Regions from separate parts of the Homo sapiens genome. Here region 2 is linked to region 1. Evidence: fine-mapped expression QTL. A gene starts in region 1. The other region holds a variant in brackets. All regions are shown on one strand. Distances are from middle to middle.

Region 1 (8,330 bases):
CTGAACCACAGGGTCCAGAGTCCTTCATGTCCACAATGAGGCATTGTTTAGCTGAACAGGTCCTGAAAGAATGCCTCCCACCAGATCCCAGGGAAAACGGACCCTTATAATAGACACTCAGCACCACTGTCCTTGCAAGAAATAGAGGTGACTCCATTGTCCACTGCCAGTTGGCCCGCACACAGCCATGCACAAGTTCACTCTGACTGGTGTGGAAAAATAATGTCTCCCATCTGAACACCAATTTTGACTTTCCAAAAGGCATTCACATCTGTTAGCACCTTGCAAGGGTCCCTTGGAGTGCAACTGCAATGTGAGAGCACCACCATTCAGACCAGGCCTTGAATCCCAACTCCACTCCTGCCAGGCTGTGTTACCTCACCTCTCTGTGCTCGAGTCTGCTGACCTGTGAAATGGAAACACACTATCTCTCTCCCAGGGTATAGGGTGGTGAACTCAACATCACAGAACATTCGTTGAGCCCCCAGAAAGGTGCTGAGCAAGCCCTCAATCAGCAATCACTGTAATGACGACAATCATACTTTTATAGCAGACAAACTCGGCCGGGCTCAGTGGCTCACACCTGCAATCCCCGCACTTTAGGAGGCCGAGGCGGGTGGATCAGGAGGTCAGGAGTTCAAGACCAACCTGGCCAAGATGGTGAAACCCCATCTCTACTAAAAAATACAAAAAAATTAGCCAGGCATGGTGGCAGGCGCCTGTAATCCCGGCTACTCGAGAGGGTGAGGCAGAGACTTGCTTGAACCCGAGAGGTAGAGATTGCAGGGAGCCGAGATTGCACCACTGCACTCCAGCCTGGGCAACAGAGTGAGACTCCATCTAAAAAAAAAAAAAAAAAAAAGAGAGAGAGAAACTGAGGCACAAGACAGTGACTTGACCTGTATGAGACCGACCCTATGGCTCACCAGACCTGTGTTATGGGCCTAAGCTACTCTCCAGTGCTCTTTCCAGCACAGTTCTGAGTAAAGAACTTAAAGTCCCACTCATCCCAAACCCCCTGAGTACGTGGTAAAATGGAGAAATGCGCCCAGACCCAGCTGAGGAGCCCACTGGTCAACTTTTCTCAGTGGCTACCACAGGACTCCATGGAAAACCCAAAGCCGCAGACTACAGAATCTCTGAGCACCAGGAGGGGCTGCCTCCAAGCTTCGGCTGGTCCTCAACCACACATGCGCCTCTTCCAGTCACTACCACCGAAGACACTACACCACGGGAAATTCCATCAAAGGCGAAGTGGACTTCAGTGCTTCAGGAGCATCTTCCTGGTAAGGGTAGAGGTTGGATGCCCTTCACCTCCCCAGCATGGAGTTCACTGTCCACACCTGCCTAGTGTTCAGCAAGGCCAGGGGCCCACAGGCACCTCATCCCTGTATGGTCCCCCACTTTCTGAGCTACGAATAACCCCTGCCTATAGCCCCACTCTAGAATAGCAAAAATAAAACTAAATAATCAACAAGGAGTAGTCCCCACTACCCACAGGCAGGCACCCTACTCAGGACAACCCCAGCACAAGCTGTCCATCCACCCACCATGAGGGAAGGGGTAACAGGCCCAACACCTTCTGTAGAATCCCAGTCACCCATGTCACCCTCCCTGCAAGCCCAGAAACACCAGTTCAACAAGTTTCCCTCGGGACTTGGAAAACCAGAGAATGAAGACGATGTGTTTAAAGCACTTATTTCAAGAGACTATACATACTGTTACAGTTCTTTAAATATTTGTGACTCTCTGCTAGGTGAGGCTGTTTTCCACAAGTGAGATGTCTGTGTCCCTCAAAAGGATGTCCAGGACCGGGCATGGTGGCTCACGCGTGTAATCCCAGCACTTTGGGAGGCGGAGGCGGGTGGATTGCTTGAGGCCAGGAGTTTGAGATCAGCCTGGCAAACATGGTGAAACCCCGACTCTACTAAAAATACAAAAATTAGCCAGGCGTGGTGGTGTGTGCCTGGGATCCCAGATACTCTGTGAGGCTGAGGTGGGAGGATTGCCTGAACCCAGGAAACAGAAGCTGCCATGAGCCGTTATGGTGCCACCGCGCTCCAGACCTGGCAACAGAGCAAGACCCTGTCTCAAAAAAAAAAAAAGTCCAGGATCAAAGGACTATGGTCTGGGCCTGCAGCCCTTCATATGCCCATTCAATAATTCCACAAATACTCAATAAGCACCTACTATGGGCCATGTACTGGAATAGTAAAACTCTGTCAGTAAAGATGGGTGGATTCTGACACAAGAGTGCATTTACCCCCACAGACCCTTCTCAAGCACCTACTGTGTGCCAGGCAGCACCACCCCAGGCACTGAAGACAAAGTAGCACAGGGCCTCAGTGCCTCAGTCTGACCCTTAGGAGCTGAGTTGGTCCAGAGCTGGGGTGGGCAGAATGAAGGCTGGCCCTCGGTAGTCTGCTCTGGCCTTCTCCTGCCTCAGTGGAGAAGTTTAGGCAACAGAGGAGCCCTTTCCCCTATCTCCCCAGGAGAGGGGAGGCTAGTCAAGGGGACAGGGACCCCGGGCGGAACGGGCTCTAAACCAGGGTCTGCTCCTGCATTCAAGATCTCCACATGCAAACTTACTGCTCCAGCTTGACAATGTCCATTTGTAAACTTACAAGATTTTTCATAAATTAAGCTGAAAGTTACTCAATACCTGGTATACAAATGCTTGTCAATAATAGTGAAAGAATGTTTAAAAACAGGAGCTACATTTATTGAACCCCTTCCACAACGCCACGTGTAGCAAAATGGTCTGCGGGGGATGGGCTGGATTCACCCAAAAAGCCCCAAGGGTGTCAGGGTTTCTACTTAGCCCTTCTCCACACCGGCACTGTTCTAAAGGTTTCATGCTAATTAATTCATTTTATTATTCCCCAAAACTCATCGAAGGAGAGGTACAATTGCTCCCGTCCTATAGATGAGAAAACGAAGGTATGGGGACTTCCCAGCTGTGTGACCTTGTACAAACCACTAAGACTGCGGGCCTCTAATCCAAAGTCAGGCTCCGAAACAGTTTCCAGAATGCACCGCCGCATTTGGCGAATGAATGAACGACCGAACCAGTAATCACTCCTAAGACCAAGAAGGCCACATCCTTCCCCGTGGGGCCTCCTTTTCCGAGGCCAAACCTTCAGCCCAGGCCCGAGCTCCGGCCTCTACCGCCTAAGTCGACTCTCGGCCGGCGCGTTCCGCTCTAGAAGGCTCTGGCACAGGCGGGCGGTGCCGGGCGCCAGCTTCTGCGGGCGTGGGCCGGCCAGGGCGCGTGGGCCTGGGGACTCGGGGCCACGGTCGTCACGTGAGCTCATCCCCGAGGCGGCAGCGTGGCCGGCACCCGCCCGCTGGCCTGGTCCGGCGAGCGTGGGCGGCGAACGGGTCCCCGCCGGATGCACGCTGGTGGGATCCAGGGCCAGAGGGCGCCGCCGGGGAAGGTCACCTAGACGCGCGGCCCGCCGGGCCTCCACGCGGCCGCCCTTGCACTTCCGCCCGCAAGCCCGGGCCGCCTCTCGCCGCCAGCCGCAGGCGTCTCTGGACCCTCGGCCTCGCGCTCCCCAGCCCAGACCTGTTCGGCACCCGCCTGTGCGGCCTTCTCTGCCCGCCCGCTCACCAGCCAGGCCCGCGCCGGCCGCTCGCGATCCCTCCCCGCGGCCGGGCTGCCGGGGCCCCTCGCCCGCTCCTCCCTCAGCGCCTCCCTCTCAGCTCCCCAGGGGCCTGGCCCCCGCCGTCCAGGGCGCAAGGAAGCCGGGGTCCTTTTCCGCTGCGCCTACCTCAGAGGATGTGGCGGCGGGCTCGGAGGCGGCTACGGCGGGGGCTGCGACGCGGAGGCAGGGAGCCGAGCCAGGGAGCGGAGCCGAGCGAGCGGCTGGGCCAAGGGCGGGGCGGCGCGGACGGCGGCGGCGCGGACCCGCCTCCCCTCCTGCGCGCCCGGCCCGGCGCGCTCCGCCCCCAGGCCCCGCCCGGGACAGCGTCCAGGCCGGGCCAGGGTCCCCATCCCGCTAGCGAGCCGCGTTCTTACCCTTCCGGGCCCCGCTGCCCCGGCAGCAGACACAGGAGCCTGCGGGCGTGTTGCGGGCGCGCGGGAGGACCTGCGTGAGTCGGGGCACGGGGAGGCGCCGGACTGACGTGTGCACCGTGTGTGCGTGCGCAGGGACACGCGGGTTCTTGCTGGAAACCTCGGCCCCAGTGGCAGCGCTCGGGAAGGGGGAGGAGGCCTTCCGATTCTCTGAGCTGTGGCCCGGAGGTCCCTGCGCTAATGGAAGACGCGCGGGGCTCCTGGGCCTCCTGCTTGGCCTCCGCGCTGCTAGATCCCCCGGGAGTTGATGTGGCCGGCGCTGGACCCAAGCCTCGCCTGGGTGGACAAAGTGGCCCCCGGCCCCCCATCAAAGCCCGCGTGGGCCCCATCCCCCGAGGGCAGTCCCAGGCCCAGCGCGGACACTGGGCGCCTGGGGCGGCGCAGATACAGAGTAGAGGCGGCGACTGTTGCTCCCGAGCTCCGCGCTCCGGATACAATGTGTCTGGCGCCTCCGACCCGCCCGCGCGGCGTCTAGACAATCTCAGAGAAAACCCCTGTGCGCCGATTTTGCACTACAGATTAGCGATTTTCTCCTGTAGCAAAGCTACTAGCAGCCAATTTCCATGCATTTGAGAGGCAAAAAGACAAAATAAAACAAAACGTGGATTGGGTTTTGCGAGGTCCCTGCTGGGTCTCTCGGCGCGAGGAGATCACGCCGGTTATGGCCGGCCGGCCGACTGAGGGCACCCCGGGTAACCCCCGCGACCAGCCGGGGCGTGTCCTGCGGGACCCAGTTAGTGTGTGTTGAGTGAACGGTCACCTCGCTGCTAGGCCTAAGCGAGTGGTCTCGTTCACCACTGAGTGTCCCCTGTGTTACGCGCGAGGCCCACTCGAAGCAGGTTTCGAGAATTAATTCGTAGATGGACGAAGATTCTACACATCCTTCGCCTTTGATCAACAAACGTCCTGGAAGGCTTGAGGCGTCTAGGGCCCTGTGGAGGAGGTGCCGGGTTACAGAATCAGGACACTCCTCACAGCCAGCTGCGACACTATCTAAAGCAGTGGGCAACTGGGGCTACGGAGGAGGCAATCAGGACTGGCTGCTGGGAAAAGGCGGCAGATTAAAAGTGGCGACTGGAGTTGGAAAAGGTGCTCCAGTGGGATAGGGTGCTGAGGAAGAGGGCAGCTGATACAGAGTGGGAGTGGGGTGCAGACAGGTTACCTAGGCCCTGTGTAGGGGCTGGGGGAGGGGTGACTGGGAATGTAAGGAAGAGCCCCCTTCAAGATCCTGAGGAGTGTAGGACGGATTCTATGACCCTCCCAGGCGCACGAGTTGCCTGGGAACTCTGGGCTTCCCAGCCTGGTGGTCCCCACCCCGCACACTGAGACTGGTGGGCAGGGGGAGGACAAGAACTCAGGGAGGCCGGGCGGGACAAGGCGGGGCTCCAGGAACCCCACAGGGCTAGGAACAGATGCCGGTGCAACCCAGTTTTGAGGCTGGGAGCAAATGTCGAAGGGCTTCCTCCCCTCCAGCGCCACCTCTCAACTCCGCTTTAAAGAACCAATCTGGGCCGGGTGCAGTGGCTCAAGCCTGTAATCCTAGTACTTTGGGAGGCCGAGACAGGCAGATCACTTGAGGCCAGGACTTCGAGACCAGCCTGGGCAACATGGCAAAACCCTGTCTCTACTAAAAATACAAAAACTAGACGGGCGTGGTGGCGCGCGCCTGTAGTCCCAGCTACTCAGGAGGCTGAGGCACGAGAATCGCTTGAACTTGGAAGGAGGAGGCTGGAGTCAGCTGAGATTGAGCCGCTGTACTCCAGCCTGACTGACAGAGTGACATTGTCCCCCCCCCCCAAAAAAAAAAAACAAAAAAAAACAACAACTTGGAAAGAGTTCTTCATGGCCTCTGCTACCCTGGGCCCCTTCGCCAGCTCCCCTAGGTGCTAGTTTCAGATTAACCACTCACTTAGTGGCTGCGTGACCCAGGCAAGAAGGCTGGCCTCTAAGAGCCTCAGCTTCAGAGTGTTGGTGTAAGTTTAAAATGGGACACATAAAGAGTAGGCACTCGGCCCCGTGCAGTGGCTCACTCCTGTAATCCCAGCACTTTGGGAGGCTGAGGCGGCTGGATCACCTGAGGTCGGGAGTTCGAGACCAGCCTTACCAACATGGAGAAACCCCGTCTCTACTAAAAATACAAAAATTAGCCGGGCATGGTGGCACATGCCTATAATCCCAGCTACTCGTGAAGCTAAGGCAGGAGAATTGCTTGAACCCAGGAGGCGGAGGTTGCGGTGAGCTAAGATCTCACCATCACACTCCAGTCTGGGCAACAAGAGCGAAACTCTGCCAAAAAAAAAAAAAAAGAAAAAAGAGTAGGCACTCATCAGTAACTGGGCCAGGCTCAGAGGCACATGTGGGTAATCCCAACTGTTTGGGAGGCCAAGGAGGTAGGATGGCTTGAGGCCAGGAGTTCGAGGGTGCAGTGAGCTAGCATCCCACTACTGCACTCCAGCCTGGACCACAGAGCAAGTTCCCGTCTCAAGAAATAGTATTAGTAATTTTTTAAAAAACAAAATCAGCTGAGATCTGCAGGTGCCATAATCACTAGAATCCATTGACCCACCACAACCCTGAGGGAGAGGGGAAACCCCCTGAGCCCCACCTCCATTCCATCTGCCACAGCTGATTGGGTCAGGGTTGGGCCCCTGACCCAAGCCAGGTCAATCAGATCCTCTCTTGCAAACCTGAACTGAGAAACCCAGGGATGAGTATGGCAGAGGGGAAAATGCGGGAGCTTTCAAGGCCCTTGGGGAGACCTGGGTCTGGCATCCCTGTCGGTGTTGCGAAGTTAACGAGGGCTTTTCACAGAACAGAGAATGGAGCAGCCGCTGCAGAGGGTGGCTCTGGGCCCCTGTTCCTTGAGTGCCCCCCTGTTCTTGCCATGCGTGGGTTTCCCTGTTCCACTTCAATAACCCCACTTGAGCTTGACCCAGCTAGAGCAAGTCCCTGGCGAAGACAGTCAAATCTTGGTGGGTGGAGAAGGAGGTTTGTGGGGACAGGACAATCCTAACCTCAGTTTTTCTCTGGGCGAATGACCCTGTTTCCCTCTCCTTTTGGTCAGCAAGCTTTCATGGAGCTGACTCCATCCCTGACTCCAAAGCCTTCCTGGGAGTGGCCACATGGCCCAGTCTGACCAATTAGAGCCCTGTATACCTCTCCTGCCCCCGCCTCTCCGCCCCCACATCCTGGCCTCCCACCGCCCCCGATCCCCGCCCCGCAGGGATGGACCAATGAGACCAGATGAGAATTCCTGGGGCTACAGGAATAAAGACTCCCTGAAAATGAAGTAAGCCCATAAGAGAAAGGCAGAGATGAGGTCCTGAATCTAGCCATGCCGGAGACTACACCCTGTACTTACCAGCTGCCTGAGCCAACGGCCTCCTGTTTTGCCTAGTCCAGTTTGGATTGTTTTCTTCCAGATGCTAACTCAGTTCCTCTCCTCCATTCAAGAAGAACAATGTAAAACATCCAGGGAAAATGAGATTTTTCTTTCATTGTTAATATTGGAATGGGTTACCAATGTAAGACTATTTCATTTTAGGGAGTTTTTGGTTTTTGTCTTATCTCTAACTTACAGCCTTAGGGCTTCTACTGTAGATATTTATCAAAGTGGAAAGCAGCCAATTTATGATCAGAATCATAAACCTATTCCACCCCCCTTTCAAGAACATAGGATGAAACACTCCCAACTCTTCTCTTTTCAGAGCCAGATGTCCCTGGATTTCTATGTGGTTTCTTAGCATTGTCTGTGCTAAGTACCAGAGCTTGAAGATGAAGTTCATGAAGGCAGAAATGGTAGTCATTTATGTAAATTAATTTTTAAAGAGAAAGATATTCTGCTTGTAACCAGCATCAATTAATTGGATTATAAAGTTGCATTGTCATAAAACCTAACTTTCCAATCATTTTCCAGTGAACTCCTCAGACTAGAGTCTGGGTAGGAAGAATCAAGATGGCGTGTTTGTGGTCAAGGATCTCAGGCCACACTCCCCACACTGTGCCCTGACACTCAGCATCCAGGGAAGGACCCAGCTGGGCCTCCAGGTTCTGAGTGACAGCAGTAATCTCTTGGGGAAACAGGACAGAAAGCATCCCAAGGTAAACACAATTGATAATATTCTCCTGCATATCCCAAAACATGAGGTGTCCTAGATCTAATCTAAAACAATTCCAAGAAGCTCCAACATCATAGCTATGATTTTTAAGAATTTTGTATATATATACACAGAGAGACAAATATTGGAAAGAA
Region 2 (8,330 bases), 180 kb before region 1:
GTGAAATGAATAAGTAGATTTTAAAAGCCACACTGCCAGCAACTCTTCAGATTGAGGCACTGACCCTTCCTCTCTTACCTGAGCTCTGGAGACTTGGGGAAAAAGTCATGGCACCAGGTGGCCCCAGGGAGGGCCTAGCCTCTGCTGCTTAGCTGAAGCTCTGAACCAAACTGGGAGGAAGCGGCAGGGAGATCAGGGGTGTAAAGACTGCTGTACTCCAGGCAGCCCCCATTCAAGCCTCCCATGGCTCCTTGCTGCCCACAGATACCCAGGCCCAGGCCCACTGCCTCACTTGCCCTTCCCAGTGGCATCCCCAACACTCCTGGGCCAACCTGAGAAAGCAACACACACATCTAGAAACAAACTCTCATGTGTTGATGTTCACTACCCCGCTGTGTTAAGCTTTTCACTTCTATTGTTATCTTTTTAAATCCTCGCGACAGCCCTGCGAAGCTGAGTCTATTATCGTCCCCATTTAATGGATGCAAACACAGAGGCTCAGGTCACACTGCAAGTAAGGAGTGGAGCCAGGGTGTGCAAACCTTGTCTTGTCTGACTCCAAGGCCATGCACTTGTTATAACTAATGGGAGTTCCACTGTATCAGTCACAGTCCGGTCAAGGAAACAGAAGCCATTCTAGGTCCTTCAAATAGAGGAGCTTTCACATAGTGAATTGCTTACCAGGTGTGGTGACAGTAAGAAGGAAGATAGGGTGACCAAAGATTAGGTAATGCAGGAAGCCAATATCTCCCCAAGGGCTGGGAGTCACAAAGGCAAGAGATAATGTGACCTAGACCTGAAGTGTAAGAGGACCGGCTTCTGTCCCAGGAGCTGGCAGCATGGAGGAAGGGCCACAGCTGCCCCTGCCTCGGAGACACCCCTAGAAGAAGAAGACAAAGAGCAAGAGAATGAGGAAGAAGGAAGGCTCTTCTCTCTTCCAGCCCTCTGACCTCCCATGGGCAGAACTTGGCAGGGAGCCACCTGGAAAGGGAGCCCAGAAAATGCAGTCTGTGGGTGTTCTGGCCCAGAAATACAGAGTATGGAGGGGCAGGTGAAAGCTGGGACAGAGAATAAAGAAACAGCATGACCTGGCACAGTACTAAGTGCTTTCCATACCCTAAGTCACATCATCCTCCTAACAACCTATGATGCCAGCAAAAACAGTGGCCCCATTTTAAAGATAAAGAAAATGAATCTTGAGAATACACATGACATGTTCAAGGTCATCCAGTAGAATCTGGATTCAAACCCATATCTGCCTGGCTCCTAAGCCAGGGAACTGGGAGTAAACATGGCAACCTTATCCAAGAGAACTTCGATCCAAGAATCTCATGGCATGTGGCCCACCTGAATGACTCTCCTTCCACGTGGTGCAGCCTTGTCACCCCTTTAGGGAACGTGAGCACGGGGATGAATCACATCTTACCTCATCACAGCCCTCAGCATGCTCCAGGTCCCAGAAATTCTGATAGCAGCAGCAAGAGTCAACAATGGGCCGTGGATTAACAGCATTTACTCTGCAAGGAGCTGCCAGGACTGGGAACACACAGCATGGCCATGCAGGGGCTGTTGGCCAGAGAAGCAGCCCCATCACAGAGCCCAGCTGCAGGCCAGTACTGAAGGCCTGGGTCTTGCTGCTTTGGGTCACTCCCAATTTCATCCACATCCTAAACTCCACTAGCTCTGTGTGCTGCCTCCTTGCTGGATCCAGCTACTGGAGAGGGGAGCCGGCTGTGTCACTGGGGAACTTAACAAGGCTAATTCCACTGAAACCTCCATTAACTTTACTACTTCTGTGTAAGTGTTTCATTGTAAATAATGATTCCCCACCACAGAAACACACTGCCAGAATCTCCCGGCGGACATAAAATTAAATCCAGCCCCCACAGCCTACTCACGAAGTGCATTGTGATAGCTGCATAATCTTCCAAACCACAGAGGGCTGCAAGCACTTTCCACCAATTTCAGGGGAGGCTTGACTTTAATCTGCCCTAATGAACAGATCTATGCACCCCTACACCTTCCCCTGCCTCACACCAAATCCCCTTTCAATTCAGATTCCTTTTTGAGGATGAATTGTACCACAGTTCTGAGCACAAAAGAACCTCACTCATCTCAGACAAGGACTCAGCTTAAAGCCCCCCACCCAGCCCTTCTCTTCCAACAAAGTCCAGGAGAAGATGTTTTAGAAGATACTATATATATATATATGTACACACACACACACGTACGCATGCACACACACACAATTTCCAGGAAGATCAGCAGAATTTCTAGAACGAAGGAGATCTGCCCAGCCGTCCACCCACATGCCCACCGCCCACACACATAGCTTCCCCAATCCTTTCTCAATGCTGGGTCGGAACCTGCTGTTTCCCTGCCTTGCGTACACATGAAACACTTCCCTCCAACCCTGGAGAGAGACTGCACAAGGTTCAGCTAAAATAAGAACCACCTAGAACAAGAAAGTGAAGTCAACTTCACTTTGAAAATAAACAGGCATGCCCTCTGTCTCTCCCAGCCTGGGCAAGGGACAGGAACAGCTTTTGGGTGCAGGGCCCTTGGGAGGAAGCCTTCCCTTCTGAGTTTTTAGATGCAGGTTTCAGGAATGCCCGGACCACCAAGCCTCTGTCTGCTCCCTGCTCACACCCTGCTCCTCCACTCTGCTCAGTGGCTGAGAAGCATGGAGGTGTCATTGCTGAGCTCTCAGGAGCCTCTCTGACCTCCTGGAACCCGCACAAGGCTCTTCACCCTCTCTGTGCAACGACACTCAGCCTGAGGGGTGCACTGAACTGTAGGCTATAATTTAAGCATCTGTTTGTGTGCTCTTCACTTGCTAAACTCATAGCACCGTTGGAGGCGCAGGCAGGTTTAGGTGACCCGAGAAATTCACAATACATCCACAGATCAAGATGAAACCGGGCTGCCCACGCATTGTTCCAGATGAGACCTCCTGTTTCCACATTCAAATTTCCAATTCTGATTTTAAAGAAGAAAAGGAATAGTCTGTTTTTCAAAAACTAAAATCCTGAATGAAGCCTTGCACATAAAGAATATTCAGGCTGAGGGACCTCCACATCAACTGCTCCTGGCCAGCACCTCCTTGTTAATCAAATGACAGTGTGGCAGCCACCCTCCCTGCCCTTGGAGATGGGGCTGCTGCGTTTAGTCCTCACAGCAGCCCCATCGGGCATTAGTTTCAGCTCCATTTTTCACATGAGGAGGTGGCCGCTCATAGGTACACTGACTTGCTCAAGGTCACACAACTATAGAAAACGGCAGAAGGAAGACTCAAACTTGGGTCTTCTTGCTCCAAATCCTCTTCCCAGCACGGCACGGCGCAGGTTCTGCAGTGCCTCGTGTCAGCAGGCCTGAGGGGTTGCAGTCGCAGAGGCCTGTGTCCTCCAGGGCCCCTTTCCACCCATGCCTCCTCCCCCAGAAGTCCTTCCCCACAGAGCAGCACAGCTTCCCCGGGCCGGCTGGGAGGGTCCAGCTGTCACGCTGCATTTCTCTCCACTTATTTCTGCTTCCCTCATGACCTCCGTTTCAACAAGATGTGCCTTTAAATTAGATCCCAGAAGGAACTTCAAGGCAAATTCCCACATTTGTGACGTTTATGGAACTTGTCATTGTTTATGCTATTATAGTGCCATCAGCTGTGAGGGCACATTCTTCCTGGTTACAACATTGTTTTTCTTCCCTTTGGGAGGGAAGCACCCTTGAAACCAGAGGCTTGTCTGGTACCCGCATAACCTCCTTATTCCCTACTCCACTTATGTATATTTTTCTCTGTGGATCATGTACATGGTCTTTCAATTTCATGTCTGTGATTTATACATTGCAGTGTTTGCTATCCTCTGTACAACAGAGAGAAAATAGTTACTTTACAGGAAGAACAATGTGACAGGCTCCCAACTCTGCAACATTCGCCAAACCCGGAGTCAAGTGCAGCTTTAGCTTTCGTAAGTGTTGGAATTTAGGCTTCATGTTTCACTTACTCTTGCAGGCAACTGAAGAGCAGAAACCAACTGTTTGTGGCCAGCCCTGAGCTAGGGACCAAGGAAGAACCAAGACATGTAATATCTTATATCCTCTCCCTGGGGACTTCTCAACTTGTTGGAGGGAAAAAAGATACATTAAACTATTAGAAAACAATGCAATGTATGTTATTGATAGTGTATTCTAATAAATAAGCTGCTATTTTCAGAAAAGGGTGGTAATAGGAGATGTTTCGGATTTGAAGGGAAGTTATACAAGAAAACATTG[A/G]TTGTGTTTGAAAACTATACATTTTCTGAAAACTTGTTATAATGTATCCCTTTAAAAGCTTAATACAAACTATCTCATAGGCTGTTGCCAAGCTTTGAAAAGTCCACAAGGAGGTAAGGAAAGAAAGAAATTATTAAATTGTAAAAATACTGATTAAAGGAAGAAGACCCTTTCTTTAGAAAAAATAATATTCTTCTGATTAGTCACAGAATTTCTTGAGGGTTTCATGCTAACATCATGCCTTCAGCAAAAGGTCAAGTTTTCCTTCTCATCTGGTTCTTGATCAGCCTGAGCTAAAGACAGACCCTCCCTGGAAATGAGCCATCAAGGATGAAAGAGACAGAAGCTGAATTTAGCAGGAGGGAGAATGAAGATGAAAAGTGAAAGCAAACAGGGGTAGGACGCAGCCCCAGTGACCACATGTCCTGGCTTGCTGGGACAATTCAATTTACACCCACTGTTCCAGCATTAATTATTAACAGTGTCCCTTTTCCTTACCAGAATAATCCTGATTGGGACAATAAGTAACATGGGCCACTCTAGAAACAGTGGGAACAAGAGTCCAGAGGCAGGAATTGGCAGTGTGTGTGCTCAGGGGTGAGAGGTGCTATGAAGACTCCAGCTCAAGTGGAGAGTTGAGCACATGTGGGGACAGGGAAGAGGGCACTGTGGAGGAGGCGCAGGACTGGATCCAACAGGGCCCAGAAGCCAGCAGGGAGGAGCTCCTACTTCATCCCATGGGTTTATTAGGGAGTCACTAAGGATTCTTGAGCAGGATAATTATGACCCCAGGCAACATGCTCAGAAAGGACAAGGAGTGAGATACCAGAGAAAAGGAGACTGGTCGGAAATTCAGTTGCCAGGAACGTAGCGGTGCAAGGAGGAGGAACACAAAAGGCAGGAGGATCAGATGCCAAGGGTCTTATGGGAGCCCAACGGGGGCACAGTGAGAAGGGAAGAATGAAGACAAGTGACCCTGGGGGGTCACACTCAGGCATATTTCTCAATCAAACCTCCTGCACTTCTTGAGTGACAAAGATGACTTGCCTCCAAGACTCTGCATTGCAAGAACAAAGAGAAAAGCTGATATGACAAAATGCTTAGAATTATGTCTTTGATGTATGAACACTCCTCGCCCCCTGGACCCTGATAAACAGAGTTCACCCCAGAATCCCTTGATGTATCCAAAGTGCACATCTTTAATAACAAGAGGTCTCTGAAGGTAGATTTCCTCTTCCATTTGTGGAGCTATTTCAATTTTTAGGGGCTTGGAGATGCTTCCGATTAATTGTTAAGTTAGCCTTTTGAGACCTCAATTTATATGCAGCATTGACCAGTGTCTGCAAATAATCTGAGCAGAGGAAGGAATAGATCCTTAGGAAATTAATGTAATCGTTTCAGCTCATTATTTGAAGAGCATATTCTCAGAGCCCAGAAACTTCATTCATTCATTCAAAATTGCTCTGAAATCCAATTAAAATCAGGGGTCACACACAGAACCATTGTTTATTTCTTCATTACTGAGATGGGAGAGTAGACTTTAAAACTGCAGAAATCTAAGGAAGGTGAGGGTGGAGCCGTGGGAAATCAGGGAGGGTCCCTGGTGAAGCCAGAAAGCTAAGGATGTGAACATTCCGGGGGCGTCATGGAAAGGCACACGCACCGATGCTCCTGGAAAGGCAACATTTCAACAAGAATATGAATCCCATCTTTAATAAATAGTTTTTAGTCCTTCAGCAGATATTAAACATCCTTTTTCGGACCCACGAACTCTAACGCCATGCAAAAGGAAGCCCAAAACCAAAAAACAAAGAGTAGAGAATTACCTCCCAGAGGTAATTCTGCCAGAAGTCTGAAGATATGTGGGAAGGAAATGTGATTCATTTATTCATGTGTCCTTTTAACAATATCCATAGAGATCTTACCTAAACTACAGCAGTGAACAAATCAGACAGTCTCTCTGCCCTGGAGTAGCTTTCATGTGGGGGCAGGAGGTGGGGTTGGGGGCATGGGCATGGAAACAGACCATGAACAATAGACAAAGTAAACAGGTAAAGCATATGGTACATTAGAAGGTGATCAAGTGCCATAGCGTTCAGGAGACAAACCTTCAAGGCAAGAAGTCAAGAACTTCTGGATGGGCAAGAACAAAACAGGAAAAGAAAGCAGAGCCCAGAGCTGGTCACCACCAGGTGCTCCTGGGCCATTCATAGGTCCCAATCAGCTCCTCTCAAAAGTAGCTTCAGCACCCCAGGAAATAAGTTGAAATTAAAACATCAGAAGAGGGTGTCCCACAGCAGCCCTGCTGGTCCCCTGAGCAACAATTACATTCCACAGGAAAGGACTTCAGCACAGCCCCAAATCATGCCCCTGTACCCAGAATCTCTCCCCAGCCCTGCACTCTCCTCCTCTCCAGGGGCTGGTTTGGGCCCCCTTGGACAGAGGGAGTGATGAGGCCTTAGTCTGAAAGTCAGTCTTAGGGGACTTGTCACACAGAGGGGAGATCTCACTGGAAGCCAGATCCTCAGGATGTCAGAGACTCAAACACCCAGCAGGTCTGAGAATAGCTCCCAGAGAGGCAGTATGGTGTCCCGGACAGAGTGCCCCTGTCTCCTTCCCCACTCCTCCACCAAGCTGGAAACCAGGGGAGTCCTGCTTGGCCAGGAGCCTGCTGGGACACATGGACCAGTCCACTCCCCTCTCTTGTCTCAAGTCCCTCTGTTGTAAAATGAGGAGGCTGATTGGGTGGCTTTCTGACCAAGGTCAGCATACCCTGGAACTGGGGCATGGGGAAGTCCTCATGCCCCCTCCAAAGCCAGCCTGCCCCTGGGGAGAAAGGGCCAGATGGGAGGGCTGCAACTCCCCGCTGCAGAACAGCTCCCCTTTTCTTTGTCTTACATATTGAGTTTCCTTCTAAGGTTTAATTTTTTAAAGAATGTTGCTGCTAGATAGATGTTTGAAAGCCACTTCTAGTGTTCTGAGACAAATACCTTTGAAGAGACGGGACAAAGACCAAAGTGTTTTTCCCTCTACCCCCACACCACCCAGGCACTCAAGACAATACTTCTGACACCAGATGCATGGGAGGGTTTTCTCACACACCACGCAATTCTGTAGGTGATTCTCTAGCAGACACCAGCTGGGTGTCCTCTTCTTCAATTCAGTTCTGACACTGTCTACCTGGAGAGAGCATCAGATCCCACAGGACTGCTCCCACTCCAGATGCCAATCATAAATAGTGGGTTGCCACCTATGCTTCTGATGGACCCACTATAAATGAGGGTTCCCACAGCCCCCTCCTTGGGTTCGATTAATCTGCTATAGCAGCTCACAGAACTCAGGGAAACGCTTTACTTACATTTACCAGTTTAATCCAGGTGAAAGAGATCCACAGAACAAGGCATGTGCCCCCATCCTGAGGCTATTTAGGGGCCACCAGCCATCTCAGAAGCAGACAAAAGACACTCATATCCCTCTAGAGATTCCAGGGCTTCAGGATCTCTTGCCAGGAAAGGGAGATGAAGACCAAATGTATATTTCACAGTATCAGAGTACCTGAGTATATTTCACCACCATTAAACAAGAGGTGATGCATGACTCAGCTCCATCAGAGAAGTAAGAAGACTCGGGGCGAAGAAGGCCCTGTGCCTTTCTCTGGCACACTGGAAGCACCTGCTTGTGTACCAGCTTCTCACCAAGACCCCTGTTGCCAAAGCAACCAAGTTTGGCTTTTCCTGCCCAAAGCACGCAGGCATCCTTGAGCAGGGGAGAGGTGGAGCCAGGCATGCACCGGGAAACCACCACATACCATGTCCAATGGCTGAGCCCTTTGAACTCTCAAGGTTGCTAAATGGTACCTGAGTCCAGGACTCCCACCAAGACACCCAACTCCACAGACAGACAAGTTAATAAATCACAGCGTGAATCCCCTTCAGAGGGTGGCTGTGTGTAAAAATAGAGAGGGCACCACAGCTTCCTGCCCACCTTTTCCTGGTGTCCCTGGAATCATTCATTACAACCACAGGGCAAGAGTCCGTGGTGGCAGAGATGAAGAGGCTCAGTGG

Direction of the effects. Alleles are on the strand shown, and positions count from the first base shown. SD is a standard deviation of normalised expression in the study named.
With allele A in place of G in region 2, the expression in stomach of the gene that starts at base 4,102 in region 1 is higher (moderate effect, 0.43 SD a copy in GTEx).

The links. PIP is the estimated chance that this variant, and not a neighbour inherited with it, causes the effect.
Region 2: its variant is fine-mapped to the expression of VDAC1 in stomach (GTEx, PIP above 0.99).

The regions. Positions count from the first base shown.
Region 1 is chr5:134,000,874-134,009,203 of GRCh38, forward strand. It overlaps VDAC1 (voltage dependent anion channel 1), which reads right to left and starts at 4,102. Exons shown (of 9, transcript NM_003374.3): 1 at 4,022-4,102. RefSeq lists enhancers at 2,826-2,875, 2,886-2,935, 4,586-4,705, 4,776-4,835, 4,876-4,945 and silencers at 3,166-4,205, 4,266-4,325, 4,366-4,415.
Region 2 is chr5:133,816,736-133,825,065 of GRCh38, forward strand. It overlaps a transcript of FSTL4 not described here. Among named protein-coding and RNA genes, the nearest start is that of WSPAR, 93 kb to the right of the region's middle. RefSeq lists an enhancer at 8,085-8,134. The variant A/G (reference allele first, on the strand shown) is at 4,267.